Linked DNA regions of Homo sapiens. The protein of the gene in region 3 purifies or fractionates together with the protein of the main gene of each other region. This does not show direct contact. Each region holds a gene or a part of one and is shown on either strand. Other genes may lie near its edges. The genes, in order: DDX19B, AP1G2, UPK3B and SLC25A15.

Evidence for each region.
Region 1: the proteins of UPK3B (region 3) and DDX19B purify together in Homo sapiens (affinity purification with mass spectrometry; one large-scale study listed by BioGRID and IntAct). This does not show direct contact.
Region 2: the proteins of UPK3B (region 3) and AP1G2 purify together in Homo sapiens (co-immunoprecipitation; 2 studies listed by BioGRID and IntAct, with this or other methods). This does not show direct contact.
Region 4: the proteins of UPK3B (region 3) and SLC25A15 purify together in Homo sapiens (affinity purification with mass spectrometry; one large-scale study listed by BioGRID and IntAct). This does not show direct contact.

The regions. Positions count from the first base shown.
Region 1 is NC_000016.10:70,324,729-70,331,761, reverse strand, and holds part of DDX19B (ATP-dependent RNA helicase DDX19B), read right to left. Parts: intron 6,189-7,033; coding exon 6,074-6,188; intron 2,471-6,073; coding exon 2,293-2,470; intron 1,932-2,292; coding exon 1,694-1,931; intron 41-1,693; coding exon 1-40. UniProt on the Homo sapiens protein: ATP-dependent RNA helicase involved in mRNA export from the nucleus.
Region 2 is NC_000014.9:23,564,404-23,572,236, forward strand, and holds the start of AP1G2 (AP-1 complex subunit gamma-like 2), read right to left. Parts: upstream 3,389-7,833; 5' UTR 3,336-3,388; exon of another isoform or gene 3,149-3,335; coding exon of another isoform or gene 3,048-3,148; exon of another isoform or gene 2,917-3,047; 5' UTR 2,913-2,916; coding exon of another isoform or gene 2,912-2,912; coding exon 2,708-2,911; exon of another isoform or gene 2,284-2,707; coding exon 2,159-2,283; coding exon of another isoform or gene 2,017-2,158; coding exon 1,875-2,016; exon of another isoform or gene 1,758-1,874; coding exon 1,661-1,757; coding exon of another isoform or gene 1,490-1,660; coding exon 1,413-1,489; exon of another isoform or gene 1,299-1,412; coding exon 1,203-1,298; exon of another isoform or gene 1,053-1,202; intron 797-1,052; coding exon 716-796; intron 438-715; exon of another isoform or gene 324-437; intron 258-323; coding exon 159-257; intron 1-158. Other genes in the region: JPH4 (junctophilin-4), read right to left, coding at 5,231-5,314, 6,525-7,057, 7,399-7,517.
Region 3 is NC_000007.14:76,512,048-76,519,051, forward strand, and holds the end of UPK3B (uroplakin-3b isoform d precursor), read left to right. Parts: intron 1-1,036; coding exon 1,037-1,116; intron 1,117-1,899; coding exon 1,900-2,029; intron 2,030-2,997; coding exon 2,998-3,157; 3' UTR 3,158-4,475; downstream 4,476-7,004. UniProt on the Homo sapiens protein: Component of the asymmetric unit membrane (AUM); a highly specialized biomembrane elaborated by terminally differentiated urothelial cells. May play an important role in AUM-cytoskeleton interaction in terminally differentiated urothelial cells.
Region 4 is NC_000013.11:40,794,598-40,801,630, reverse strand, and holds part of SLC25A15 (mitochondrial ornithine transporter 1), read right to left. Parts: intron 4,647-7,033; exon of another isoform or gene 2,575-4,646; coding exon 2,316-2,574; exon of another isoform or gene 907-2,315; intron 1-906.

The DNA.
Region 1 (7,033 bases), on a different chromosome or scaffold from region 3:
TTGAGAGCTCTGCTGCCAGCCAACTAGCTGTTTTGCGAGTCTGTAGTGAAAAGAATTGTTTTTTATGAAGAGACCTGTTAAAAACAAAAGGAAGACAACTGCTAAAAAGTGGCTTGCCACGATTAAAATACATGAAGGCCCTGCTAAATCCAGTTAGGAGGTTAGGCTTAAAATTTCTCAATGAAGCATGGTAGTACACACCTGTAGTCCAAGCTACACACTTGAGCCCAAGTGTTCGAGGCTGGCCTGCACAACATGGCAAGAACCCATCTCAAAAAAAAATTTTTCTTTCAAATAGAATTTTAGTCATATGATTTTTTTCTTTTTAGATAAGTTATGTAACTGCTGTTACTTTTGTATCTAGGAAGAGTGTGGCTTTAGCCAAAGATCTTCATTCCTAAATAGTCTATGTTCTTGCCAGATATGGTGGCTCGTGCCTGTAGTCTTAGGCTTTGGGAGGCTGAGGCTGGAAGATTGCTTGAGGCCAGGAGTTTGAGACCAGCCTGGACAACATAGCAAGACCCCACCTCTACAAAAATAAAAATAAAAATTAGGCTGACATGCATGGGGCACATACCTGTAGCCCTAGTAACAAGAGCCAAGGCTGCAGTGAGCTATGACCATGCCACTGTATTCTGGCCTGAATGATAGAGCAAGACCTTATCTCAAAAACAAACAAACAACATATATATTTTAAAATTTTATTTTAAATTTAAATTTTTTGAGACAGGATCTCATTCTCTTGCCCACTCTGGAGTGCACAGTCACAGCTCACTGCAGTCTCAACCTCCTGGGCTCAATCAATCCTCCCATCTGAGCCTCCCAAGCAGCTGGGACCACAGGCATGCACCACCACGCCTGGCTAATTTTTAAAATTTTTGTAGAGATGGGGTCTTGCTATGTTGTGCAAGCTGGTCTTGAACTCCTGGGCTCAAGAAGATCCCCCCACCTCAGCCTCTCAAAAGGCTGGGATTACAGGCGTGAGCCACTGTGCCCAGCCATATATATATTTTTAATGATGAGGTCTCACTATGTTGCCCATGCTGGTCTGAACTCCTGGGCTCAAGCGATCCTCCAACCTCAGCCTCTTGAGTAGCTGGGACTACAGGTACTTGCCCAGCTTATACTCTTTTTTTGTTGTTGGTTTTTTGTTTGTTTGTTTGTTTTTGTATTGAGACAGAGTTTCGCTCTTGTTACCCAGGCTGGAGTGCAATGGAGCAATCACAGCTCACTGCAACCTCCACCTCCCGGGTTCAAGCGATTCTCCTGCTTCAGCCTCCTGAGTAGCTGGGATTACAGGTGCACACCACCACGCACGGCTAATTTTTTGTATTTTTAGTAGAGATGGGGTTTCACCATGTTGGCCAGGCTGGTCTTGGTCTCCTGACCTCAGGTGATCCACCCGCCTTGGCCTCCCAAAGTGCAGGGATTACAGGCATGAGCCACCGTGCCAGCCGCCCAGCTTATATTCTTAAAAATCTAAAAATTATTTCATTGGCTGTTACTTGGGGTTTTCTCCAAGTAATCACTAAGAAGTGGAATCAAAGTCTCCCTCTTACGACTCACTAAAACCTTAGGAGAACAAACCACTTCGTTTCTTCCCATGGCACCCAGGGGCATCCAGTCCTCCTGAGCCCTGTGGGGAGCTGGCTGAGAGGGAAGGGCCAGGCCTGCCACTGCCACTGCTACTCACATGGCAGAAGATCATGGCTTGAGCAATGGTGATGGCCCCGTAGAGGTTACACAAGGCCTGGAACTTCTCGTCTCTGCTGCTGCACAGGACATAGTACTGCTTGATGGTGTCCAGGGTCTCTTCCTCACGCTTCAGTTTGATAACGTTTGGGTCTGGGACCACTTTCTGGGCAAACTTCCACACAGAGTCTTCAAAGGTGGCGGAGAAAAGCAGCATCTGGCAGTTCCTGGGCAGCATCCTGCAAGGGAAGGCCCTGGTAGGTGGCCCCAGGTGGCCCCGGGAAGCGACAGAAGCACAGCCTTCCCAGCTGGGAGGGTCTAGATGCCCAGGAAGGCTGATGGGAGAGGAGCGTCTTGGGGAGGAGGAGCAGCAGGCCTGGGATGGGGACAGGGGTTGGGGGAGAGTCCCTAGGTCTCCTTTCTCAACCCAGGCTGGGAGGGACTGTGGCCAGCGCTGACACGGAAGTGGCCCGTCAAACAAATGCTGCTGAGAGTACGAGAGCCAAGACCCAGGCAGAAGCCAGAGGAGGCATCTGAAGTGAAGGGAGAAGACACTGCAGATGGGGAATCTGAGGAGTCCCCCACCCTCGAGATCCCTACCTCTGGATGCGGATGCTCTGATCTTGGTGGCCCTGAGTGGCTATCATGACATCAGCCTCATCCAGAACAAACACCTTGATTTTCTTGGGATCAATGAACTTGAGCTTGGAGCACCAGTCCAGCACAGTCCCAGGGGTGCCAATGACAATCTGCTCACTGATCTTCTGGCCTCTTTCCACTGTGGAGACCCCAAGATGTTTTCCATGTGTGGGTATTTCTTTCTTTCTTTTTTTTTTTTTTTTTTTTTGAGACAGAGTCTCACTCTGTTGCCCAGGCTGGAGTGCAATGGCATGATCTCGACTCACTGCAACCTCTGCCGCCCAGGTTCAAGCGATTCTCCTGCCTCAGCCTCCCAAGTATCTAGGATTACAGGCACCTGCCACTGCACCTGGCTAATTTTTTTTTTTTTTGTATTTTTAGTAGAGGTGGGTTTCACTCTCTTGGCCAGGCTGGTCTTGAACTCCTGACCTGGTGATCCACCTGCCTCGGCCTCCCAAAGTGCTGGGATTACAGGCATGAGCCACCGTGCCCGGCCTCCATGGGTATTTCAAAGGCAAAGCCAGCTCTTCTCTCTGAGAAATTCTAAACCTATTATATATTTTAATGCAAATGTTTTGCTGTTTGCATTAATATATTAAGGAAAGGTTAGGATATCACTATAGCATTTAATGGACATAAAAACAGACAAAAATGCTGAAAAGGTAATGGGTACAAAAATACAATTAAAATAAGTAAGATCTAGCATTTGATAGCACAATGTGGTGACTACAGTCAACAATATATTGTACATTTAAAAATAACTAAAAGGGCCGGGCACGGTGGCTCATGCCTGTAATCCCAGCATTTTGGAAGGCTGAGGCAGGCGGATCACCTGAGGTCAGGAGTTCGAGACCAGCCTGGCCAACATGGCGAAACCCCATCTCTACTAAAAATACAAAAATTAGCTGGGTGTGGTGGTGGGCTCATGTAATCTCAGCTATTTGGGAGGCTGGGGCAGGAGAATCGCTTGAACCCAGGAGGCGGAGGTTGCAGTGAGCCGAGATCGCGCCACTGCACTCCAGCCCGGAGACAGACTGAGACTCTGTCTCAAAAAAAAAAAAAAAAAAAAAATTCAGAATTCTCTACCCTTCTAATTCGAATACAAATTGCAAAATTTTAAATGATTATCTCCCAATAAGTTTCACTGTATTATTTACTTTTCAGAACTGGCCTCAAGTTGGCATTAGGACACTGTATGCAGACTTGATTTTCATAAGGTCACATTTGTTTCAGAGATCCATAAAACTCAACCAAACCTCTAACACTTTTTTTTTTTTGAGACAGAATCTCATTCTGTCGCCCAGGCTGGAGTACAGTGGTGCAATCTCGGCTCACTGCAACCTCCCCCTCCCGGGTTCAAGCAATTCTCCTGCCTCAGCCTCCTGAGTAGCTGGGATTACAGGTGTGCACCACCATGCCCAGCTAATATTTTTGTATTTTTAGTAGAGACTGGGTTTCATCATGTTGGTCAGGCTGGTCTCGAACTCCTAACCTTACAATGATCCACCCACCTTAGGCTCCCAAAGTGCTGAGATTACAGGTATGAGCCATCATGTCCGGCCAACAACACTTTTAAAATTACTTAAATAATATTAACTGTAAAACAAACTAGTGTAGAAAAAATTAGTAACAAAAAATAATTAACAGAATAAGCCCCAGAGTCAATAGCCATAAACATTCTGGGTTTTTATTCTGCTAATGAAGATAAATAAATTAGGCAATTAAACAAATTCAGTCCTGGCCTAGTGGCTCACACCTGTAATCCCATCACTTTGAGGGGACGAGGCAGGAGGATTGCTTGAGACTTGGAGTTCTAGACCAGCTTGGGCAACATAGCAAGACACTGTCTTTACAAAAAAAAAAAAAATTTGTTTGTTTTTTTTTGTTTGTTTTGTTTTGAGACAGAGTCTTGCTCTATCGCCCAGGCTGGAGTGCAGTGGCACGATCTTGGCTCACTGCAACCTCCACCTCCCGGGTTCAAGTGATTCTCCTGCCTCAGCCTCCTGAGTAGCTGGGACGACAGGCACATGCCACCACACCTGGCTAATTTTTCTATGTTTAGTAGAGATGGGGTTTCACCATGTTGGCCAGGATGGTCTCTATCTCCTGACCTCGTGATCCACCCACCTCGGCCTGCTAAAGTGCTGGGATTACAGGCATGAGCCACCATGTTTGGCCTACAAAAAAAATTTTTAGAAAATTAGCTGGGTGTGGCCAGGCACGGTGGCTCGTGCCTGGAGTCAGAACTCCAGCCTAGGTGACCTAGCGAAACTGTCTCAAAATAAAAAAAAGAAGGCGGCCAGGCGCAGTGGCTCACGCCTGTAATCCCAGCACTTTGGGAGGCCAAGGCGGGAGGATCACGAGGTCAGCAGATAGAGACCATCCTGGCTAACACAGTGAAACCCCGTCTCTACTAAAAATACAAAAAATTAGCTGGGCGTAGTGGTGGGCGCCTGTAGTCCCAGCTACTCAGGAGGCTGAGGCAGGAGAATGGTGTGAACCCCAGAGGCAGAGCTTGCAGTGAGCCAAGACTGTGCCACTGCTCTCCAGCCTGGGCGACAGGGCGAGACTCTCTCTCAAAAAAAAAAGAAAGAAGTCTGGGCACAGTGGCTCACACCTATAATCTCAGCACTTTGGGAGGCCGAGGCAGATGGATAACCTGAGGTCAAGAGTTTGAGACCAGCCTGGCCAACGTGGTGAAACCCCATCTGTACTAAAAATACAAAATTAGCCAGCCATGGTGGCAGGCACCTGTAATCCCAGCTACTTGGGAGTCTGAGGCAGGAGAATCACTTGAACCCGGAGGGCAGAGGTTGCAGTGAGCCAAGATCATGCCACTGTACTCCAGCCTGAGTGACAGAGCAAGACTCTGTTTCTAAAATAAATAAATAAAAATAAACAAATCTAGAATGTAGAATTTTTGTTTGTTTGTTTTTTGTTTGTTTGCTTGTTTTGAGACGGAGTCTCGCTCTGTCGCCCAGGCTCGAGTGCAGTGGCGCTATTTCAGCTCACTGCTAGCTCTGCCTCCCAGGTTCACACCATTCTCCTGCCTCAGCCTCGCAAGTAGCTGGGACTACAGGTGCCCGCCACCACGCCTGGCTAATTTTTTTGTATTTTTATTAGATACGGGGTTTCACCATGATAGCTAGGATGGTCTCAATCTCCTGATCTCGTGATCTGCTGCCCGCCTCGGCCTCCCAAAGGGCTGGGATTACAGGCGTGAGCCACCGCGCCCGGCCAGAATGTAGAATATTTGAAAAGCAACTAGTCTGGTCTGTGCAAAATGTTAAATATAATAGGGAGAGAAAAAGGTAGGGGTACAATTCTAGATTGAAAGAAACAAGTACAACAACCAAACGCAACGTATAAACGCTAACTTGATCTTGGTCGAAAAACCAAACAGCTATAAAGGAAGACTTTGGGAACAGCTGGGGAGGAATAAAAATGGACTGGTATTAGTTATTCTAGGAAATCTGTTAATTTTCCTGGTTGTGATAAAAGGGTATCCATAGGTATGGCAAAGAATGTCCTCATGAGGTGCATGTCTGCAGTTTACTTTCAAATGGTTTGACAAAAATGTATACATTTATGTAAAGCAAATATGGCAAAATGTTAAGTTTTTGAATCTAGCTGGAGAACATACATGTGTTTATTGTATTATTTCAACTATTGGGTGGGTTTTGAAATATTTCAAAATAAAAAGAATTAGGTTGATGATTTAGGACCAAATTCACATACTCACATTTATTGCCTCGAACAGCATAAGCTAGCTTCAGTTCAGGGTAAAATTTGCCCATTTGTTCAATCACTTTTCCTGTTTGGAGGGCGAGCTCATACGTTGGGGAGAGACATAGACACTGGCAGGAAAAGAATGCAGAGTGCAAATTCAAGACAATAGCTCTTTTGCAAAGGGGAATTACCATTAGTACTTAGCCACTCCTCCAGCTGAAGCTGAAGGAAAGAATATGTACATTAAAATGTACACCATTTGATTCTTTAAGCTACAGAGTCATAAGCTAGAATTCTTAGGGGTCAGAACTCTGGCTGGGTAAAGACACTTGAAAACAGATACTGGCCACTGCAATACAAAAACCCACCCATGAGCAAGGATCTAAAGTTCCAATTGGCATTAGCTTTCTTTTCGTTTACTCAGAAAGCTCTCAGAACTTTCTAATGGATGGCAGTTGCTGATGAAACAGGTTTTCCTGCAAGTAAAGGAGCCAAGCCTGTAAGAAGCATCCCAGAACTGGCACACCATGGAAAAAGGAAACAGGATTTTTATTGCCATTGGAAGATATCCCGTATTATTTGTGCTCAATTTAAGGAGTTTCAGTTTGTGTAAAAAGTAATGCATAGCTTGGCTTTTATTTTATTTTTTTGAGACAGAGTTTCGTTCTTTTTGCCCAGGCTGGAGTGCAATGGTGCGATCTCAGCTCACTGCAACCTCCGCCTCCCGGGTTCAAATGATTCTCTTGCCTCAGTTTCCCAAGTAGCTGGGATTACAGGCACATGCCACCAGGCCCAGCTAATTTTTTATTTTTAGTAGAGACAGGGTTTCACCATGTTGGCCAGGCTGGTCTAGAACTCCTGACCTCAGGTGATCCGCCCACCTCGGCCTCCCAAAGTGCTGGGATTACAGGCATGAGCCACTGCACCCAGCCCATAGCTTGTCTTTTAATCCATCAAATGGAAATCCCCTTCT
Region 2 (7,833 bases), on a different chromosome or scaffold from region 3:
GTTGGGGTCAGTCGGAAAGGAGCAACCTGCTCAGCCATTGAGGACTGGGAACACATTGGCGCAAGATGATGGGGCTAGGAGGGAGAAACCAGCAAGCAGGACCTGTGTGGGTGAGGTGGTGGGCGGGGCCGTAGTGGGAGAGGCATAAGGGGTGATACCCGTAGGCCAGCTGCAGAGCGGATATCCATGATGGTGAGTACTGTCTCAAACAGGACCGCATTTCCGGCATTTCGGCTGGTGTCCGTGTTAGTGGCCACCTGAGTGGATGAGAGAGGAGATGTATCTGCTCAAGGCCCTCCTCAGGTCTCCTTTTTTTGATACAGGGTCTCACTCTGTCGCCCAAAGCTCACTGCAGCCTTGACCTCCCAGGCTCTGATGATCCTCCTGCCTCAGCCTCCTGAGTGGCTGGGACTACAGGCACATGCCAACAAGCCCAGGTAATCCTCAGGATTCTTGAAGGACTCCAACATGTTATCTGTCCATCCTTCAACCATCCAACAAAGTTCCCTGAGGCTCTACTATGTGCCAGGGCCAGCCTGGGCACTGGGGCAATAGCACTAAGACAGACTGTGTCCCTTCTTCATGGAGTTCACTGTCTAGAGGAGATGGAGAGGCAATTACACGGCCACTGCACAGTGACGAGTCATGTGAGGGGCACCCAGGGCTGATGGGGTCTCCAAGCAACACAGCTAACCAGTGCCCTCCCAGGCCCCACCTGGGCCAGCAAGTCATTCATGGTCTCACTGCTCTCCTCGTGGTTCCGGCCCAGGATCCGAAGCAGACGAAGTATCTGGACCTGAGGTTGGGTTGAAAATGGAAAGTTGGAGGGGTTCATAGGATAAGGAGTCGTGGGGCTGAGGAGAAAACTCCAACATGTGAGGGTCTGGCTCGCTCCCTAGAGCCTTCCCCCACCTCCTCACCTCCACAGGTCCCTTGGTCCTAGGAGGGGAACAGAGGTGTGTGAGGCCAGGGGAGTTTAGGACAGGCTTAAAAAAAAAATTGTTAACAAACTGTATTTTCCTGACTTTTAGGCATTCCCTCTCCCCTCACAGGTCCTGGGATGACCCGAGCAATCCTGTGCCTGCTACTCTGCTGCCCAGGACACTGAGAGAACCAGTGTTCTCTGGGAGGAAACCACTGGTCATGGTCTTACTGCTATGCCCTCTCTGATCCAGGGATACAGCAGTGAAAGGTCACCCCACCTGCAGGAAGGGGTCGCTGACTCCAGATATGCTGTGTTCTGTGGAGTATCCCATTGTCACCAGAGTCCGGAGGATGTGTACCAGCTGGGGTACCACCTGGAGGGAGGGCACAACTTTGGGCATTCGTTCTAATCCTCTCCAGCTAAAGCCCCATTCCTTCCCCACTGACCCTGTCTTCCAGGCCCAGGGCCTGCCCCTTCACCAGCCCACCTTTCGGAAGTGCCTGAGGGCTGCAGGGCTTCGTTCGCAGAGCTCCGTGATCAGCGTGATGGTGCCCAGCAGGATGCCTGGGGTCAGCGTCGGGGAAGTGAATGGTGGGGGCCAGGGGCAAGAGAGTCTATTGCGTGTGTGCCTGTGTGTGTGCACTACCCTTCTCCTGTGAGCTGGGGTTCCCATCCGATTTTCAATTCTTCTGTCCATAGACCTGAAGCAAAGGATGGGGGGCCCCACAGCCTTACCATGGTGACGCTCATGAAGCAGTTGGGCACAGGGTGGGAGGAAGACACTGGAGAGTTCAGGGACCTTCCGGATCATGTGCACTGCAGTCAGAATAGCCTGCAGAGGTCAGGGGCCTCAGACAGGGGTCAGAGGAGATGGACCCCTGCATCTACTACTATATAGCACGCAGCAGGCAGTGTGCAGGAGCACGTGCCAGGAGTCCCGCCATCTCACCTTCTTGCGCACGTAGGGACTGGGCTGCAGGAGCAGTTTCTCCACCTCTGGGGCCAGGTCTCGGCACATCTCAGCAGAGCCCATGGTGCTCAAAGTGCACAAGGCCAGGCCTTGTACTGGCTGAATCCCCTGGCTCAGGTCACTGCAGGGTTTGGGAGGACGGTCAGTCAAACCTCTGAGAAAATCAGTCCTTTTCAATACCCACAACAGGCAGTCCCCTGGGATTTCCAAGGTCCCTACTCTCCCATCTCCCTGATTCCAAGTGATTGCCAGAACCCTCTCACTTCTTGATGCTGTTGGTAATGAGCAGGTGGGCATCGTGCCTCTCATCCAATAGAAGCATGGCCCCCAGGTAGCCCACCCTCTTGTCTGTGAATCTGGAGGAGGCGATCAGTTTCAGGCACTCCATCTATAGTGAAGGGGGCAGACCAGGAAGAGGCAGGGGTGAAACCATAGACACTCACATCCCTGTTCCATCTTCCTCTTTAAAACCAGATTAACCTGTGGGGCATCATATCTCATCACTCTCCCTTCAACAAGAGGAGAAGCTTAGGAAATTCAGGCGTTAGTGGGTAGGAGGAACTAGGAGTTGAGGAGGATGGGAGCGGAGAGGAGGAGATGCCTGCCCTAAAGGAGGCTGGCCAGAGAATGAAGGGTTCAGGCCAGCTGATGACCAGTAGGGGTAGCAATGGGGAAAGAGGTTTGCAGTGCAGGCTGTGAAGACTCTGAAATTGTAGAATTTAAAAAACCAGGGCATAAACAGGTGAGAGAGTCTGGGACTCTGCCCCACTAGCCTTCATCAAGCTCAGGAGGGAGGTATTCCTGGCCAGTACCTGTCCAAAGTGGGCGGGGTAGCCCAACATGTGGACGTAGAGCAGTTTGGCCAGCTGCCGGTGCCTGTGCACTGGGTCCCCGTCGCGGAAGGAGGCCCGGATGTGGGCACACTCCTTTTGGATCACCTCCCGCTCCTGGGCCTGAGTCTTGGCCCCGCGAATCTCTTCGATGAGGTCCTGAAGCTTCAGCGAAGGCACCACCATCCTGACTGGCAGAGTCCGGGAGTGGAGAAACACTCTCTGGTCGGGCGTGCCTGGGCTTTCGGCCCAGGCCCGTCCTGTGTCAAGACCCTAAGAGCCCGGGTCCCACAGGTACCCTAAAATTGCGCCCGCATTTTACCTTTCCCGAAGTGGGTCTCCAAATTCCGCGCCCACCCCACCGCCCGAGAAGCCCACTACGCATGCGTCCGCACCCCACCGGCGCCCCTTCCTATTGAGCATGCGCGGGAGCCCCACCTATTTCTCTCTACCGTTTCCTCCCCCTACCTGGTACCCCATCCCTAGCTCAGCCATTGCTTTTTTTTCCACGACCCTCCGCTGTTTCTTCCGCGAGCTTCCTCCCCCGATTTCCATCTCAGGCAGCGGCAGCGGCAGCGACAGCCTGCCTACCCCAGGACTCCAGCCTCACCTGGCTTCTGCCTCAACTCCGCTCCTCTGCCCCCCAGCGCTTCCTGGTACGGGGCCGAGCAGGGGTTGGTGCTCCGTGCGGTCCTTCCCTCTCCCCGCCTCCACCACGGGACCCCGCCCTCCTGGGCCGACTGCAGAGCCTTCCTGAATCCTCTGACCTCGGGCCTCAGGCTTTAGCGGAGAGACAGCATGATAGGCCTGGAGTTCTTCAAGAGGCCTCCTCGCACATCCTTACCACCCGGAGAGCCTCAGTTTGGATTTGAAGCCATCGCACCCCAAAGGAGATGACAATCCCCCCCCTTTTTTGAACTTTTTTATTAATATATTTTTTTTGTTAAATTTCTTTGTATTTTTTTCCTGCAAGACTTGGTGTTGGCGGCACTGTTGTAGTTTAACTTCAATCCCAAATTCCATGAAATAGAAATCAGAAGTAAAGGTTGAGAGGGGAGGAAGGAGGGAGGCAAGCCAAGGAATAAACAAGAGTTTGACTAGAAAAAAAGAAGAGGGTATGTGTGGTGGGCATTCCTGGGCAAGGCCATTCCTTGAGGGAGGGGGTTGGCAGGCAGCTTGCCTCTGCCTCATGCAGGGGAGGGAGGAAAGATCCCCTGGGGACCCTGCAGTCCCCTCTTCCTAGGGCTTCCTGCTCCCAGGGGAAAAACTAATACCAGAGAGGGATCAGCCACAACCTCAAACAGGGCTCTCCACCCACCTGTCACCCGGGTTTGACTCCCACCTCTGCCCTGCCTGGGAAGCATGTGAGATCAGCTATCTTTGATCCCCTCCTTCTGTTGTTTTCCCATTTCACAAGATTCTGATGTAAAGGGGGAAGGGATATAACCCATTTTGGGACTACTAAACTTGTCACAGCTTCTGCTTCCATGTGAGCTCCTGTTATCTTGTCTGGTCCTATCCCCCAGAAGTGCCTCCTCCCACCACAACTCCCAGAGTTGGGATGTGGGGGCCTTGCTCAAGTGCCTCTAACCCTCTGCAGTAGAAATGTCTTCTTCAGGCCCCTTAGGAATTTAATCAAAGGCCACAAGTGAGTCCAGACCAACCAAATAAACTATTATGGGGGAGACAGAAGGGTGGGAGAAGTCAGTGGCAAAGTCTGGGCAGGGTGGACTTGACTGCATTGGATATTCTCTGTTCCTTTACACGTTGCTCTTGGCATGGCATGCCACCAGAGGGGGCTGGAGGAGGGGCTGGCCGATGAGGAGAAAAAGAGGGAAATGCTGGGGAGTTACTCTACTTTTCACTTCCCTTCTCTCCTTCAGGGAAGGATGGAATTGGGCAGTAACCCAGCTCAGTGCTTGGAGGTAAGATAATAGCCTCCAAGATTAGAGGTGGAGGATGCACCTCCTGCAGCTTTTTCACTAGGCCTCAGAGGGACAGCAGGCCCCTTAGGCTAGGGAGCCACAGCAGCTCAGCCAGTGCCTTGCCCGACATTCAATCACTCCTTCTTCATTTTCTTCCTCCTCTCCATTCAGCTTCCAGGAGTCTCCTTAGGACACCAAACCCCCACCCGCAGCGAAGTTGAGGTCTAAAGAAAAGGTGGGAGGGCGTGGAGCAATGGTCTGACTTAGATTTGTGTGTCTCAGAGAAGACAGCAACTCTGAGAGAGAAAAGCCCTTCATATGTAAACAATCTAGAGAAAGAAGGGGTTGGGATGGGGAAGGGAGTGAGGAATACAGAGACAGATCCAGAAGAAATGAGATAATCTGAAAGAAGACAGGGAAAGAAAAAGCGAGAGAAAAAAACAAAGGAGCACAGAAAAGAAAGGAAGAAGAGAAAGAAAGATAGGAGAAAACACAGCCAGGAAGAGGAGAAGAGAAAAAAGGCAGGTCAAAGGGGTGAAGAGGCACGCAACCAAAGCCAGAACCAGGCCAGGAAGTAGCCTCAGGTGAGGAGCTGGGAGAACAGGAATGCCAGGCTGAGGTCCAGGAGGGCCACGGCTCCCACCACCAGGGGGTTGGCAGCTCCCTAGAGAGACAGAGGGGGAAGCAGACTCAGTCCCCGAGGACAGGGCCCACCTTCCTGCCCTGACTGAGGTGGCAGAGCTGAAGGGTCTCAGGCACCTCCCTGCACAGCCTGGAGCAGGGGGATCGCCAACATTTGTTTTGGATTGCAAAACCCCCTCTTCTCCCAGGCAGGGCCCCACCTTTCCTCTGACACCTTCAATGCAGGGACAGCCCTTCCACCTCCTCCCTCTAGTCCCCTCCCATCAGCATATCATGTGTCCCAGGCAGGAGGTGCCTGGCCTTAGTAGCAGACATTGGCAGCAGCAGCCAGTACTGCAGTAAGGCAGAGGGATGAAGGGGTGAGGATGTGGTTGCTAGGAAACAGAAGGCCTAGAGCCCAATCAGAGTAGAGGGTTCTGGGCAAACTCCGCCTCTCCCGGTTTTCTGCCTTCTTCTCTATTTCAACTTCTTCCCGGGAGAGGGAGGGAGAGTCAGGGTAGGGAGGGAACAATCTTTTCCTTTTTTATTTCTGGGCACCAAAGAGAGAAAGTGCGGAGGTGGGGGTGGGGGTGGAGTAGGAAACTGAGAGCTGGAAATGATATGGAAGGAGAACGGGGGAAAAATGTTCTGGCTCTCCCATTAATTATTAGTTTACAACCCTGGGCAAGTTACTTTTTTTTTTTTTTTTTTTTTTGAGACAGAGTCTCGCTCTGTCACCCAGGCTAGAGTGCAGTGGCGCGATCTCAGCTCACTGCAGGCTCCGCCTCCCGGGTTCACGCCATTCTCCTGCCTCAGCCTCCCAAGTAGCTGGGACTACAGGCGCCCGCCACCACGCCCGGCTAAATTTTTTTTGTATTTTTAGTAGAGACGGGGTTTCACTGTATTAGCCAGGATGGTCTCGATCTCCTGACCTCGTGATCCGCCCACTTCGGCCTCCCAAAGTGTTGGGATTACAGGCGTGAGCCACCGCGCCCGGCCTGGGCAAGTTACTTTAAGTGCTCTGGGCCTCAGTTCCCCCATCTGTCAAATGAGGGAGTTGGGCTTGCAGGTGTGTAAGGTTCCTTCCAGCTCGAACGCCCTCTATTTTTTTGAGGTGGGATGTGGTCCAAGACTGGCCAGGCAGAGGAAGCCGAGTGAGATAAAAAGCCCCCCCGGTGATCAGACAGTTCTGGAAAGGGTGGGAGGCAAGGCTTTGGGAGAAGAGGGCACACAGCAGGGACAGAGGATCTCACCGGCTGGGCAGGCCTCTCGGTTGCAGCGGGCTCCCCGAGCTCTTCTGTCAGGCACCCAGCATCAGGACCCCTCGAGGACGAGCCCCTCAGGACCAGCATGGCGATGGGCTCAGGCTCCGTGCCTGCTGGGGCCCTCAGCGGGGGCAGGGGCTCTTCATCCTCCCCCTCCTCCTCTCGAAGACTTCCTGAACTGTCGCTGCAGCCTCCGAGGAGTGGGGAACCGTCTCTGGGCCCTGGCCCTTGCATCCCAGCCTCATCCTCAGCCTCATAGCCAGCTAGTTCCTCTGCCTGTGCGCCTGCCCCCCCCCACTCCTCAGGCCAAGCTTTGGGGCTGGAGAAGGGACCCTGGTCCCCTCCAGGAGGCAGTGGGCTCCGGCAGGCAGGGGGTCGCCAGGGTTGGCGGGAGGAGGCAGGACTGCTGGGCAGTTCAGGGGATCCCTCTGAGGGGGTCAGTCCGTTCTCATATACCCCAGGGCTGTCCTCATCCAGGGGCTCCGTGTCGGAACCTTCTGAGTCCTGCCTGGGTCTGCGGCCTGGGTAGGGATAGCTGAGAATCAGAGGGGCCTAACTGGCCTTGGGCTGGAGTGGCTGCAGCTTTATTCCTGACTGGGCACTTCCCAGGACTTTGGAATTCCCAGGCTCATAGCCTCTCACCGCCAGACCCCAAACCCCCCATTATCCTACTGCATACATTCCCAAGTCCCACTCCCCAGACTACCAGGTCTGGCCCCCACCCTGTGTTCCTTGCACCCTCATTCCTTGTTTTTTCCCATCCCCACTTCCCTTGCAGGGCTTCTCATCTGTTTCCCCACACCTGAGCCTCTCTAGCTCCCTAGGGGCCTCACTGCCCTCCCCCCAGCTGTCCATGCCTCACCTGGGGCCTCTAGCATGGGCTGCAGGTCCTGGGCTATCAGTTTGGCCATTCGAGCTGCCTCCACGGCCTTCTCAGCGACACTGCTGGCTGCCACTGCCTTTAGGAGGGCGTCTGCTGCCCTGTCGGGTCCAGAGACAGGGATTTAGCAGAACTTCCCCCACTTCAAGTTAGTCCCTGCTCAGATGCTCCAGCCCCCTAGCCCCTGTCCCCTCTACATCACATCCTCCTCTCCTCTGGAGTCGTCACCCTTCGCCACACTCTGCCAGCTGCTTCCCTTCCTGGCAGGCCAGGGCAGCTCCCGTTTGGTTTCCTCCCCCTGACCTGGGCTGTGTTTGCCACCATCACACCCTCCTGCTCCTCTCACACCCTTCTACTGCTACGTCCTGTAGTAACACTTCTTCCAGTTGCAAGGGCCAGGCCCTCCTGGAACTGTGT
Region 3 (7,004 bases):
TCACCCCCGCTGGGGCCGGGCAAGGCCCAGGAGGAGCAGGTGGGCACCTTGGGGAGGCGGGATCTTAGTCAAGGTGGGAGGGGGCAGCTTCCCCAAAGTCTAGGCCCCTGTCCCCCACCACGGGCAGATCTGGCAGGAAACTCGGGGGCCGAGTTCAGACCCAGTCTCGTCGGTATTAGGCAGGGAGCAGGAGAGGTGGCTCCTACCCGCTCTTACAGATGAGGAAACTGAGGCACAGGAGGTCAAGTGGCCTGCCAACATCGGGGTGGAGCCGGGATGGGGAAGCAGGCAGTGTGTCCAGGTCAGGACTGTCCGGACACAGGAGGAGGCGGGGTGACCTCAGGAAGACCAGGCCCAGGGGAAGCCGGGAAGGCAGGGCGTGGTGAGGCTGGAACAGCACCCCGCTCCGCCCAGCCCCCTTCTGCCCTCTCACCCACTCTCCAGGTCCACCCTCTGCCCTCCCCGCTGCCTCACCCTGGCTCAGCCTTCCAGCTCCATGCCCCGCCCCATCCCCCGCAGCCACTCTTTTCAATGCCAACCTGCCAGGTCCTTCCCCGCTTCCCAGGCCTTGCAGAGCTCCCAGCCCTGCAAAGAGACAAACCGAGGCCCTCTGCGGGGCTCCTGGTGCCCTGGGTCCTCAGGCTGCTGGTGATTGAGCCCCCTGCCCCCGGCTACTGCTGCCCCTCTGGGAGGCCTGTGACCCCTGCCCCATGTGCCCTGCTAAGCCACCTTCACCTGCTCTTTTGGCTTGTGACATTTAGGAACCAGGGCCCCTAAACCAGCATCCCCGGCCCAGGTCTGGTGTCTGGAGAGCAATTGCTCGGGGGGATGAGGGGTGGTGGCACAGGCCAAGTGGCTGGAGACATCTCAGGGGATTCTCAGAGCAGGGCCAGGCCATGGGCTGCTGCTCTTGACGGGCACCCCCACTCCACATCCATGGGAGGGCCCCAGAGGAGCTGCCTGGGGCTTGGCCCTGCCCAGGGTGGTCCCAGCCTCTGAAGCTCTCCCCTCCTCCCCCACCACCTCCCATCCCCAGGGTGAAGTTCCTCCTGATGGACACCAGGGGCTCACCCAGGGCTGAGACCAAGTGGTCAGACCCCATCACTCTCCACCAAGGTAGCGCTGGGCAGGAGGGGCGCTGCCCCCAGTGGACTCACGATCTCTCTGGGCCGCCTCTGCTGAGCTGGCCACACCCCTGCTCCCACAGGGCTGGGGGCCTGGAGGCCATGTCCAAGTCGGGCCCAGCCCCCAACAGAACCTCATGCTGGGGGAGTGGGGCACCCAGCCAGCCCCCTCGGCAGGGGCACCATCTCGGCCCATCCGCAAGCGTTTGCCACATTGTGGGCACAGACAGCCTCCCCCCTCCTGTAGGGAGTCAGCCTGTGTCAGCCCCTGCTGGGAGGGAGGAAGAGGGTGTGGAGGAGGTCAGGGTCAGGGTCGGGGCTGGCTGGGGAGGCAGCCAGCTTGAGTTCTGAGCAGACCCCAAGGGGCAAGCGTGAATGTACCAAGCCCAGAAGTTTCGAGTGCCACGGCCCAGGTGTCGGGGGTGGGGGTCTCCTGGGAGACGGCTTCAGAGGTCAGGGGGTGTGGGGTGGAAGTCTTGTCATCTGAAGGCCTTGACTGCTGGGCTCCAGGGAGCAGGGCAGTGGATGAGCACGTGGGTGGGAGCAGCCTAGAAGGTAGGAGCAGGGCGGAGGCTGTGGTCCAGGCTGGCAGAGAACAGATGCTGTGCCGTCCCGAGGAAGAGGGACGGGGGGTGGGATCAGGGGGGCGCCTGGGGATATGAGACAGCCAGACCTTGAAGCTAGGCCAGCGTGGGTGGGGAGGGAGCGAGGGAGGAGATGACAGCCAGCCCTGGGGTCGAGGGGCAGCCCCTCTGAGCAGCTGGTGTGTGTGCAGGGAAGACCCCCGGATCCATCGACACCTGGCCAGGGCGGCGAAGTGGCAGCATGATCGTCATTACCTCCATCCTCTCTTCTCTGGCCGGCCTCCTACTCTTGGCCTTCTTGGCAGCCTCTACCATGCGCTTGTGAGTGGGGACACCCCCTCGGGCCCCTCTCCCACCCAGAACCCCTCTGTTGAATTGGTCCCAGTGTCTGGAAGCCCTCCAGGCATGCCATGGGGTTTATTTTATTTTTGGTAGAGACAGGGACTTGCTATGTTGCCCAGGCTGGTCTGGAACTGCTGGGCTCAAGCGATCCTCCCGTCTCGGCCTCCCAAAGTATTAGGATTACAGGTGTGAGCCACCTTGCCGAGCCCCGTGGTTTCGAGCTGGGCAGCGCCCCTCCCAGGGCCTGTGCAGGGAACTCCCACCCTGAGTATCTCGCACCTCAGGGGTCATTGATGGGGCCAGCAGCCCCTCTGAGGACAGGTTCGGGAGGTCCCGCCTCACTCGGGCCCTGTCTTTTCAGTGTGTCCTCAGCCAAGGCCCTTCTCCTCCCGGGCCTCACCTGCTGTCTGTGGATCCTCTGGTGGTTTAGTAAGCTGACGCCAGGGTAGTCAGGGTGGCCACCTGGAGAGGTGGTCCTCCAATTGGTTCTAGAAGGGAGGAAGGAGGGATCAGAGACTGCAGGTGAGGCCGGGTGCAGTGGCACATGCCTGTAATCCTAGCACTTTGGGAGGCCGAGGTGGGAGGATCACTGGAGGCCAAAAGTTCAAGACCAGCCTGAGCAACATGGTGAAACCCCATCTCCACTAAAAATGCAAAAATTGTCCGGGTGTGGTGGCAGGCACCTGTAATCCCAGCTACTCGGGAGGCTGAGGCAGGAGAATCGTTTGAACCCGGGTGGCGAAGGTTACAGTGAGCTTAGATCACACCACCGCACTCCAGCCTGGGTGACAGAGCCAGACTCCATCTCAAAAAAAAAAAAAAAAAAAGAAAAGAGAGAGAGAGAGACTACACATGAGGGAGCTGGGAGGGAGGAGAGCAGGCCTTGACCCAGCACGTGCCCCATGTGGCAGGGACATATGTCTCTTCCTCCTCCTCTCCCCGCCCAGCTCCAGCCTGTGGTGGCCGGAGGAGGCCCCGGAGCAGCTGCGGATCGGCTCCTTCATGGGCAAGCGCTACATGACCCACCACATCCCACCCAGAGAGGCCGCCACACTGCCGGTGGGCTGCAAGCCTGGCCTGGACCCCCTCCCCAGCCTCAGCCCCTAGCCTGGCCTCTTTGCATGGGGCTGGGGGAGATGGGGCGCTGGGAGTGAGTGCATGGTGCTTTGTCCCAGCTCCTGCACCCACAGGCCCCCTCAGGGCTCCTTGCCTTTCCCCCCCACCAGCACACCCCGTACCCTGCCTGGAATCCCAGCACCAGCCCCCCTGCCTCTCCTCTGCCTTTCTGGTTTCTCTCCCTCTCCAAGCATCTGTAAGTTGCACTCAGGAGGGTTTAGGGGAGGGCCATGGGCAGGCTGGATACCCAGTCCCCACCTCCATCCCCACCTCTGTCTCACCTGACCTCCTGCGAGGGAGGCTGGAGACTGTGTGGACAGGCCGCCCTGACCGCAAGCTTCCAGACCCTGGGAGGAGGCCTGCAGAGGACTGTGCTTTGCCTGATGCAGGGAGCTGGGCCCATCCTGGGGCCTATGAGACCTGAGCCACCCTCCGTCCCCCATCCCACACATCAGTGGCTGGGCGGGGTGAGGATTCAGAGGCATCTCTACTGCCCCTGGGCACAGCACCTTTCTGAGAGTGGGACTCTCCATGGTCATCTGACTACCAATTCTGGCCACCACCTCCAACCCTCTTGTGCATATGGATGGCTCTAGCCCTTATCCACCCCCTCAAGCATTTATTAAGCATCTGCTGTATGCTACATACAGTGTTAGACTTGGGGCTTCAGGCATAGCCGGTCCTGACCTTGGGGAGATGCCTTCTCTAGACCTGAGACGACCACGTGTCCAGATGTGACCTGTTGCTGTCGGGGGTCTATCAGGCCCTTAGACCGTCACCCCAGTAGGCTCTCCAGGACCCAGGAGCCTCCATCACCTGGAAGGACCCTCTGTGCAAAACCTCAAGCGTCCATCTGTGCACAAGGCCGGTGGTTCCCGTCGTCGCCACTCGGGGTCGCCGGTGAGCCGCAGCCAGGCCGCCTCACGGCCAGTGTGCATGCTCGCTGCTATTCGCTGCCCCTTCTGCCTCCGAGGCGGTAGCAGATGCCACGTTGGCGGGGTCGGTGAAGGTCAGGACTCTAGGCCTCCCTCCGCCAAGCCAGAGGGATGAGCAATCACGCCTGAGAGCCCACTGCGTGCCATGCAGTCCGCACAGCCGCAGCGGTTTTCTAGATGGAGAAACTGAGGCTCAGTGACTTGCCCGCTGCACTCTGTCCACGGCCGCTGCACACGCCCCCTTGGGCTGCGCTCCCGGACCTTCTAATGTGACCACGGCTCCCGGCATGCAGGCCCTGCCAGCGGAGGGAGCCCGGTGGTGACCCTTGGTCTGCAGCCCTCTTTGGAGGTGAATAAATGCGGTCTGGAGCCCACCCTGGCCTGAATGGTGCCCCTGCTGGGACAGGAAATTTATGCCGGGAGCCCAGGGCCCTGCTCAGCTTCTGCCCCATGGGGTTACCCTGAGCCTGTCCCTTGATTGCTGTCCCGGCTTGTACTTTGAGGTGCCCCCATCTCCTAGGAAAATCCACACATGTGTTTCAGGGCCAGGTATGTGGTTTAGGTAGTGCTCCCTCCCAAGCAAGCCCTTGAGCCCCTCATCTCTGGAGGCTTCTCCTCCATGCTGCCTGCACCCCCACCAGCCACCAGAACCCCTTCAGGTATAGACAGAAACAGATTCAGTCAAATTCCTTGGTGTCCCAGGTGACGTCTGGCCAGGGGAGCCAGCCCCTTTAAGTTACACTATTGCATGGCTCACACCCGGAATCCTAGCACTTTGAGAGGCTCAGGCAGAAGGATTACTTGACCCCAGGAGTTCCAGACCAGCTGGGGCAACAACATAGTGAGACTCTATCTCTACTAAAAATGAAAAAAAAGATTAGCCAGGGGTGGTGGTGTGCACCTCTAGTCCCAGCTACTCGGGAGGCTGAGGCAGGAGGATCACCTGAGCCCAGGAGTTTAAGGCTGCAGTGAGCCGTGATCGTGCCACCGCACTCCAGCCTGGACAATAGAGTGAGACCCTGTCTTGAACGAACAGGCCAGGCGCAGTGGCTCACACCTGTAATCCCAGGACTTTGGGAGGCTGAGGTGGGCAGATCACTTAAGGTCAGGAGTTAGAGACCAGCCTGGCCAATGTGGCAAAACCCTGTCTCTACCAAAAATACAAAAATTAGCAGGGCATGGTGGTGGGGGCCTGGAATCCCAGCTACTCGGGAGGCTGAAGCAGGAGAATCACTTGAACCCAGAAGGTGGAGGTTGCAGTGAGCCAAGGTCTTGCCACTGCCCTCCAGTTTGGGTGACAGAGCAAGACTCCGTCTCCAAAACAAAACAAAACACACAAACAAACAAAAAAACCCCACCACGGTGGAGCCCAGGTCCCTCTGCCTGGAACTGAGAGAGAGTTAACAGACGGGCTTGGTGTCTCATGCCTGTAATCCCAACTTTGGGAGGCCAGGGCAGGCGGATTACTTGAGGTCAGGGGTTTGAGAGCAGCCTGGCCAACATGGTGAAACCCTGTCTCTGCTAAAAATACAAAAATTAGCCTGGTGTGGTGGTGGGTGCCTGTAATCTCAGCTACTTGGCAGGCTGAGGCAGGAGAATCACTTGAACCTGGGAAACGGAGGTTGCAGTGAGCCGAGATCGTGCCACTGCACTCCAGCTTGGACGACAGAGCGAGACTCCAACTCAAAAAAAAAAAAAAAAAAAAGATAGAGTTAAAAGACCACCTCCCTGTCAGTGACCCTTCAGCAGAGACTGTCTCACGCTGTTCTATCCAGACCCAAGACAGTTGGCTAGGGGCCCGGCCCCGGAGGGGTATGACAGGGAGAAGGAGGGGGCCGTTGGTGTTTGCTGTGTGAAAAGATGAATTAATCCTCCCAGGGTTCAAGGACCAGCTAGGAGCAGGATTGCCATGGCTTTTTTTTTTTTTTTTTAACGTGGAGTCTCACTCTGTTGCCCAGGCTGGAGTGCTGTGGCGTGATCTCTGCTCACCACAACCTCCACTTCCCAGGTTAAAGTGATTCTCGAGCCTTGGTCTCCTGAGTCGCTGGGATCACAGGTGCCTGCCACCACACCCAGCTAATTTTTGTACTTTCAATAGAGATGGGGTTTCGCCATGTTGGCCACAGGCTTTTGCATGTCCTGGGGCCCTTCTATGTTTGTTCTCACTGTCTGAATCCGTGCTGATGCCAGACGCAGCGCCAGGGACTTCCCATTCGAGCCTGCAGCTGCCCCTCCCTTCTGCACAGCCTCTCTGAGCCCACTGAGGAGCTGCCATCACCCTCAGGAGCCACCTGGAACTTGACTTTGGAAACACCCTCTAAACAGATCTTGGAACCTAGGGTGTAAAGACTGAATCATAGTCCAGGAGTCCAGGGGAGGCTACTGGCCCCCACTGAGAGCCAAGGGGGCTTCCTAGGGGTTCTTTCTTTCTTTTCTTTTTCTTTTTTCTTTTTTTTTTTTTTGAGACCGAGTTTTGTTCTTGTTGCCCAGGCTGGAGTGCAACAGTGCGATCTCAGGTCACTGCAACCTCTGCCTCCTGGGTTCAAGCAATTCTACTGCCTCAGCCTCTGGAGTAGCTGGGATTACAGGCGCCTGCCACTACACCCAGCTAATTTTTGTATTTTTAGTAGAGATGAAATTTCACCATGTTAGCCAGGCTGGTCTTGAACTCCTGACCTCAGGTGATCCATCTGCCTTGGCCTCCCAAAGTGCTGGGGTTACAGGTATGAGCCACCACGCCTGGTCCCTGGGGTTATTTCTGAGCTGACTCTTTTTTTCTTTTCTTTTCTTTTCTTTTGAGATCGAATCTTGCTCTGTTGCCCAGGCTGGAGTGCAGTGGCATGATCTTGGCTCACTGCAACCTCCACCTCCCGGGTTCAAGTGATTCTCCTGCCTGAGCCTCC
Region 4 (7,033 bases), on a different chromosome or scaffold from region 3:
CTCCTGATTAATCTTCTCTCTAGAACTGACCCTTATAAAATATTCCAGACCCCCAACTGTGGTCTGATGGAAAGGAGACTGGGCAGGAGCTCAGAGGACACAATTTCAAGTCCTTAGCGGGGTGACCTTGAGCAGGTCAACATCGGCACCTCAGTTTTCCATCCCTAAGAGAGGTAACATCTGCCTTGCTCTTCTCACAGGATCACGGTGAGGGCTATAGAGACATGATATACATGTCAGAGCTTTGTAGACTCTAAGAGAGCATTTCCCCAACAGGTAAGAGGCAAACACTGTTCCTCAGGATGGAAAAAAAAAACGGGCCCAAGCTCAAAAAAGATGAGTGCTGGATTAGACAAGGTTAATCAGGATGGTTTCTTTTCTTTTCTTTTTTTTTTTTTTTTGAGAGACACAGTCTCGCTCTGTTGCCCAGGCTGGAGTGCAGTGGCATCATCTCACTGCAACCTCTGCCTCCTGAGCTCAAGCAATCCTCCCACCTCAGCCTCCCTGGTAGCTGGGACCACAGACATGTGCTACCACACTCAGCTAAGTTTTGTATTTTTTGTAGTGACGGGGTTTTGCCATGTTGCTCAGGTTGGTCTCAAACTCCTGGGCTCAAGTAATCTGCCCACCTCAGCCTCTCAAAGTGCTGGGACTACAGGCGTGAGCCACTGTGCCCAGCCTTACGCATCTTTAATGAACTAAATAACACATACACTATATGAAATAAATGTACCCAGAGTGATTCTTCACGAGAGAGACACTGTGACGTAATTTCCCAACCCTTTCTTAAGGACACCCAGCAATTCAATGTTCTGAAAGCAGTGTGGGAAAATGCAGCTGTAAGGTATTAGATTGTTCTCAGCAGAAAAGCAATATGCTCTTACCTGTCCTTCACTTTGTTCACAGGCTAAGGAAGCAAGAAAGTGGAGGGGCGGGCAGAGCCAGATCCAGTGGTTTCACTCATGCAAGACAGAAGTCACTGTCTATCCTGTGGCTGGAGGGGCTACTTTGCTCAGAAGACACAGGTCTTCCCCAGAATCTCACGTGGCTGCTTACTGTTTCCCTGTCTTCTCTCCCCATTTTGTCCTTTGCTAAGGAAACTGAACTGAATTCCAGGTCTTCTCTAATAGAGTGTCTCTCCTTCAACAGGGAACAAAACTACAGTTGCCTGTAGTTTTTGCTTCTGTTCAGTCTCCATCATGGCATGCCATACTCTCCTGGTTTGTGCCCTGCTTGTTTCTTTACTGCCTTCCTGCCTGCCCTTTCTGTGCTGGAGGCTCATCCCATTCATGCTCAGCCCTCCTCGCTGTCTACACTGTCTTCTTGGGCAATCGTATCTAGTCCCAAGCCTTTTTAAAAAACAAGCTCTACCCATCATGGTGGAATTCCTGTCTATAAAAGGGCACACCTTCAGACCTCCAGGCACCTCCAGAGAACAGTGCTGTGCACAAGAAACCGAATTCAGTTGTGTGGGACCTGCAGCTGCAATCAGGTTTCAAACTCCTACTGAAATAACTAAGACTGCCCTTTGCAATCTTGAAGCTTATATAATAATTTTAAGTGGTATAAAATAAATCAACATTCAAAGCAGGGATAGCTAAACATCCCAGTGGTTTCCAAATTCTGTTTAGTCTCTATATAATAAATACCCAAGGCAAGACCAACAAAGAGGCAAAGTCTGATGTTTTGGGAAGATTTGGACAGAGAAAGGTGGGTTCCCTTGCATCTTCGCAGACATTTCCGACCCTTCCTAAAACTCCTCAAGTTCATCTGGCTCAGACAACCTCTTCCAATACTCTGCTTTTTGCTAATGAAAGAAAAGCTAAATCTTGGATCATAAGCAGCATCTACAGTTTCAGTGCAGCATGTCTGCTGACGAGAGGTAGCACTGCCAGCTGCATCTGAACAGCATTCTCCTGGAGAAAACTGAAACAGAAGGGCGGTTCATTCTCAGTGGTGGATGATGAGCAGGTCTCCTCTGTGGTGTGCATATGTGGTTTCTAAGTTTTATATGATGACAATGTATAACTTCATAAATAAAAGGAAAGCAGTTATTTTTAAAAAAGGAAATGTTCTTCCACATAAGGCACCAGTAAAATTGTGACCATACAACAGTAGATTTTTTTTAATTTTTATTTTTTTGTAGAGATGAGGATCTTGCTGTGTTGCCCAGGCTGGTTTTGAACTCTCAGCCTCAAGCCATTTTCCTGCCTTTGCCTCCCAAAGTGCTGGGATTACAGGCATGAGCCACCATGTCTTGCCAGTTTTGTGGGGTTTTTTTAAACAAATAAAAAAAGTGTGTGTCCTTGACTCACCTCAGCTTTGCCTGCTTGTCCAATCCAGCCACTTTCCGCACCACCTGCTGGCAGAAGCCGTAGCACATGAAGAGGACTGAGTTCTCAGCGATGTTGGCGATTAGTGCTGGACTGGTACCCTTGTAGAAGCCACGGAAGCCCACCTGGGAGTAAGTCTTCAGGCAGCAGTCGGTGAGGCCCCGGTACAGGTCAGGGAACGTCTGCATCTTCACTTTCATTGTGTCAAAGGGCTGCCCGGTCAGTACACATGCTGTACCTCCTGCAATCAGGACAGATGACTGCTCTAGTACGAGGCTACAGTTCCATTATCCATGGAAGGAAGGCACAGGCAGCCTACCCCAGAACTTACCCCTGCTTCGGTTCATTTCAACCTCTTTTCCTCCAAAACCTTCCAGCCATGTCCAGTAAACAATTTAGAGCAGGTCCTTGATGTGCCTGGCATCTAAGTCCCACCCTGAAGGAGCTCATGCCAGGCAGGGGAGAGAGACAGACATGTGTTCAACAGCGGCAAACAGTGCAGTGAATATGTAGGAGCCTGGGCAATAGGGTCAGAGGGACTATGGCTTTGCTGTGAGATCCTGGACAAGCCATGTAACTTCTGAGCCTCAGCTCCTCATCCATGCCACCTCACAGGGTTAGCGTGAGGATTAAATAAAAATGGAGGAGACAGGCTTGGCACAGCACCGGCTACGTAATCAGTAAACAGCAGCTACTGTGTGCACAAGAAACGGAAACCACAGAAAGGGAGGGGAGACCTGGGAAGACTTCATCGCTCACTTTGCCTAATGCCCAGTGGGACTGATCAGACCCGGCACCACGGAAAGGAAACAAGGAGTCTGGCTAATTAATCCCCAAAGAGCTAAATATTTCATTCTATAGAAAAACCTCTTTAATTTGAGCTCTACCGATTAATAACGTGTATGTAAATAGAGAATGAACTGAAATTTATTTATGCTTAAATCCTTTATTTATATACTTCTATAAGATTAAATACAGCAGAGTCTACATTGCACAAAATAATTTTTTTTTTTTTTTTGAGATGGTGTCTTGCTCTGTCACCCAGGCTGGAGTGCAGTGGTGCAATCTCAGCTCACTGCAAACTCCACCTCCCAGGTTCAAGGAATTCCTGTGCCTCAGCTTCCCAAGTAGCTGGGATTACAGGCACCCACCACCACGCCTGGCTAATTTTTGTACTTTTCATAGAGATGGGGTTTCACCATGTTGGCCAGGGTGGTCTCTAACTCCTGGCCTCAAATGATCCTCCTGCCTTGGCCTCCCAAAATGCTGGGAGGCATAAGCCACCATGCCCAGCCACGTGAAATCATTTTAGTAAAAATTCTAAACAGAAGAGAAGAATGAACTGTAACCACCCTACAACATCCCCACACCCTGTAGTAGGGTTGGCGTCGTGGGAACTGCCAGTGGTTAGTGTTTACCGTCTCCTTCTGGACCTGAGAGGAGCTCTTAAAGCTTCATCAAAATGCAAAAGAAGGCTTACAGAAAATATTTAAGAAATGCAACTTCCTGAATTTGATGTTATACACAGTTATTCCATCTAAACTCTGGAAAGTGGAGTTGGGGGAAGGGACATTAAGAATAATTCTCAATTATTTATTGGCAAATAAGCCAACAATTCCAGAGTCTGAAAACTGCTTGATCTCTTTTTTAAGCAACAAGCAATATGATCTCTGTGAGCCCATCATTACTGTTCATTTCTTACAGGAGAGGAATGACACACTTCCGCCTTTAATTGCCAAATTATCCCCAATTCTGAATTAGTGGAATATAATTTAATATGATTTTATTATGATTAATCCTGAGTCATTCTCTCCCAGGTAATGCTGGGCTAGGATAAAAAGAAATCTGAATTACATTAAAATAATTTAATTATTCCAAGAGAAAAGGTGACAGAATGTTTTAAGTGGGTGCGTAATTCAGAGAGCCTAGATGCAGATAAGCTGAATAAAGCATTTAATTCAGCACATTCATATTTTAACTTGATCATCTTGAACAGTTCAGGCATCACAGGTTACTAGAATACACATTTGCTGTGTAGCTGGGACAGTTACATTTCCAACAGGGAGAAGGGGGAGGCTAATGAATGTACAAATGCTAGCAACAACTGTCTCCCGTCCTCTGCAAGGGTAAGCTAACTTCCCGTGTAATTTACCACAAATGATATGGTCACGGCGCTCACTGTGCCCTCAAGTGAGAGAAGACTGTTCTGAACACCAGTACCAACCACAGAGACTGACACCTAGTAGGTTCTCAAAGATCGATCAAGTCCATAAAGCCATGAATAAATATTATATTTCTCCACTTGCCTAGAAATCAGACTTCTGATCTTATTCTCCTTAAAAGACAAATAACAACATTCTTTCGGCGATATGGTGGCCAGCCAAGCATCTTATTCCGCAGGAAAGGCACTCAGATTATGTCATACCTAACACTTTACTAAGGGTGGTGGTTTGGATTTTCAGTCCTTGACATAGAGTCAGTAAATCACGAGATACAGAGGAAATCTATCAGGGCAGGGACAGTGTCTCAGGGAAGGGACAGCTCTGAAGAAGGCAGAGAGGTGAGGAGAGAGAAGCAGACTCACACCACAGGACCAGGCCCACCAAGCAGAGGTGAGACCCTCAAACCCCTCTGGAGGCCATCGTAAAGGTTTAACAGGGCAGGGAAGAATATCATTTTCAAGAAACTCCAATCAAAAAAGGTTTGGGGTTGTTTTTAATTTTGGCATTTGAGAAGATAAACTTCAATGATCTGAAATGCCACATTCTCCAACTATGCTAAACAAGGTAAACTGCAACAGTAGTCAAAGTAGTGACTGCATTGTTTTAGAGTTGCTGAATGACTATTAAAGTGGTACCAAGTTTCTCTTTAAGGCTATTTAACTTTTGGGATCCACGCACCCCCATTTCAATAATTACCTAATCACCTAAGTTCTTGAAATCCTCCTTTATCCTAGCTGTTTAGGGATCTAGATGTCTTACAGCCATTGCAGATAGGGAAATGGGAACTTCCCAGCACTTTAGAGTAGATAAGCTGGCTAAAAACCTGTGTGGTGGGGAAAACGTTGTTTAAAGGAAAAGAAGAGACACACACAACACCACATTTAAGCTCCATCCACATCACCTCGGGCTGCAGCTGGCTCTGTGCTTACAGATGGATCGCTTCCGTGGGTGACCTCTGCCACAAAACACAACAGGTCCTCTGCTCCTATCAATGGCTGGCAGAAAATTCCCAAAGCCCAGCAAGTTCCACATCCAGAAAGGCAGGGCCCAAAGGCTCCAAACTAACCCTCCCCTCCAGTGTGCTGCAGATGCATTACGGAGTACTAAAGCAGAGACAGCAACGACACCAGACAAGGGACCCAGGGATCACAGTCCTGCCCTGTCTTCACACCATCTTGCTGTGTAACCTTGAACAAATCTACTGCTCCTCTGTGGGCCTTTTTCTACATATCCAACGAGCATTGGAGCCAACAATGTCTAAAGGTCTCTCTAGCTCCAGCACTCCAAGACTCCAAGATCCTCAAAAGTGGGTTCCATTTGCATTCCATAGGCCTCACAGCAGAACAGAGGTTTCTGTGTCACTGCTAGGCACCTCCTCTGCCCAGCCCCCAACCTATAGACCATGTCTCGCTCCCCCTCCCTATCCTGTCCCCCCAGGAATGGGCTTCGTTGTCCTCAGAAGTTAAGACTACCCACAGCATCTCTACCTCGGTGAGGGGCGTCCCTGTGTCGCCAGCACAGGGGGAAATACCTGTCCAACAGTGATGGGGACAGTGTGTCAGTATACATAAGGGATCAATACATGTTCAAAACATGCCCACCAGCAAATGCCTTACATACCAGGCTCCCAACCATACTGTTGCAATTTCTATCTTTCAAACTAACTTGTAAATTATAAATGTGGTACCCAAATACCTGTATGCACATAAATAGGAAAAGGTAAACTTTTAAATTCTATCACCATAGGTTCTAGATCTTTGACAGATTGACTGAAAGACATAAAATGTCAAAAGCTGAGACTATATGTGGCTAAACACCCTCCTTCTGCAGAAACAGAACTGAGCCCAAGAGCATTCACTCGCTGGTGAGAGGCGGCCTGGGGCAGGCAGATGTTTGCACCATTCTCAGGGTCAGCGTCCTCCCCAGTGTGGCATGGGGGAGGGGAGGGGGAAAGGGGCTTGGGAGGCTGTAGCCTAAAGGCACGCAGTGGGCAAGAGACTACTGGGCAGACCCCCACTGGCCTTCCGTTCCCTGGGCATCTGGGGCTGGGACGCTCCTTGTGGGTTCTGCCCTGGGAGAAGTGCCCTTGCCCAGTGCTCCTCATTAGGCTCGGTGACGGTGACGCGCTCTCTCCAGTCTTCCTCATTAGCATACCCTGGCTGACCTTTGGCTCATGGAAAAACACTTTGCTCTTCTCTGAACAATTTCTTTTTCACAATTGAGCAAATGACTGATGAGGTGACCATATTCATGACCATACTCATCTGCTGGTGGTGGGGGTGGGGGGTGTGCTGGATAAGGACAGCACTGGGCAACACCCCCGCTGGCCTCCCCACTCCAGGGAGCTGCAACTACTATGAGAATCCTGCGGGAGCCCAGGGTAGTCCAGGGTTTTCCTTTGGGCAATCAGTATTCCAGCCACTCCTCCTACTTCTGGACTCTGGAGAACCAAATTACCACCATGCACTTCCCATTCCG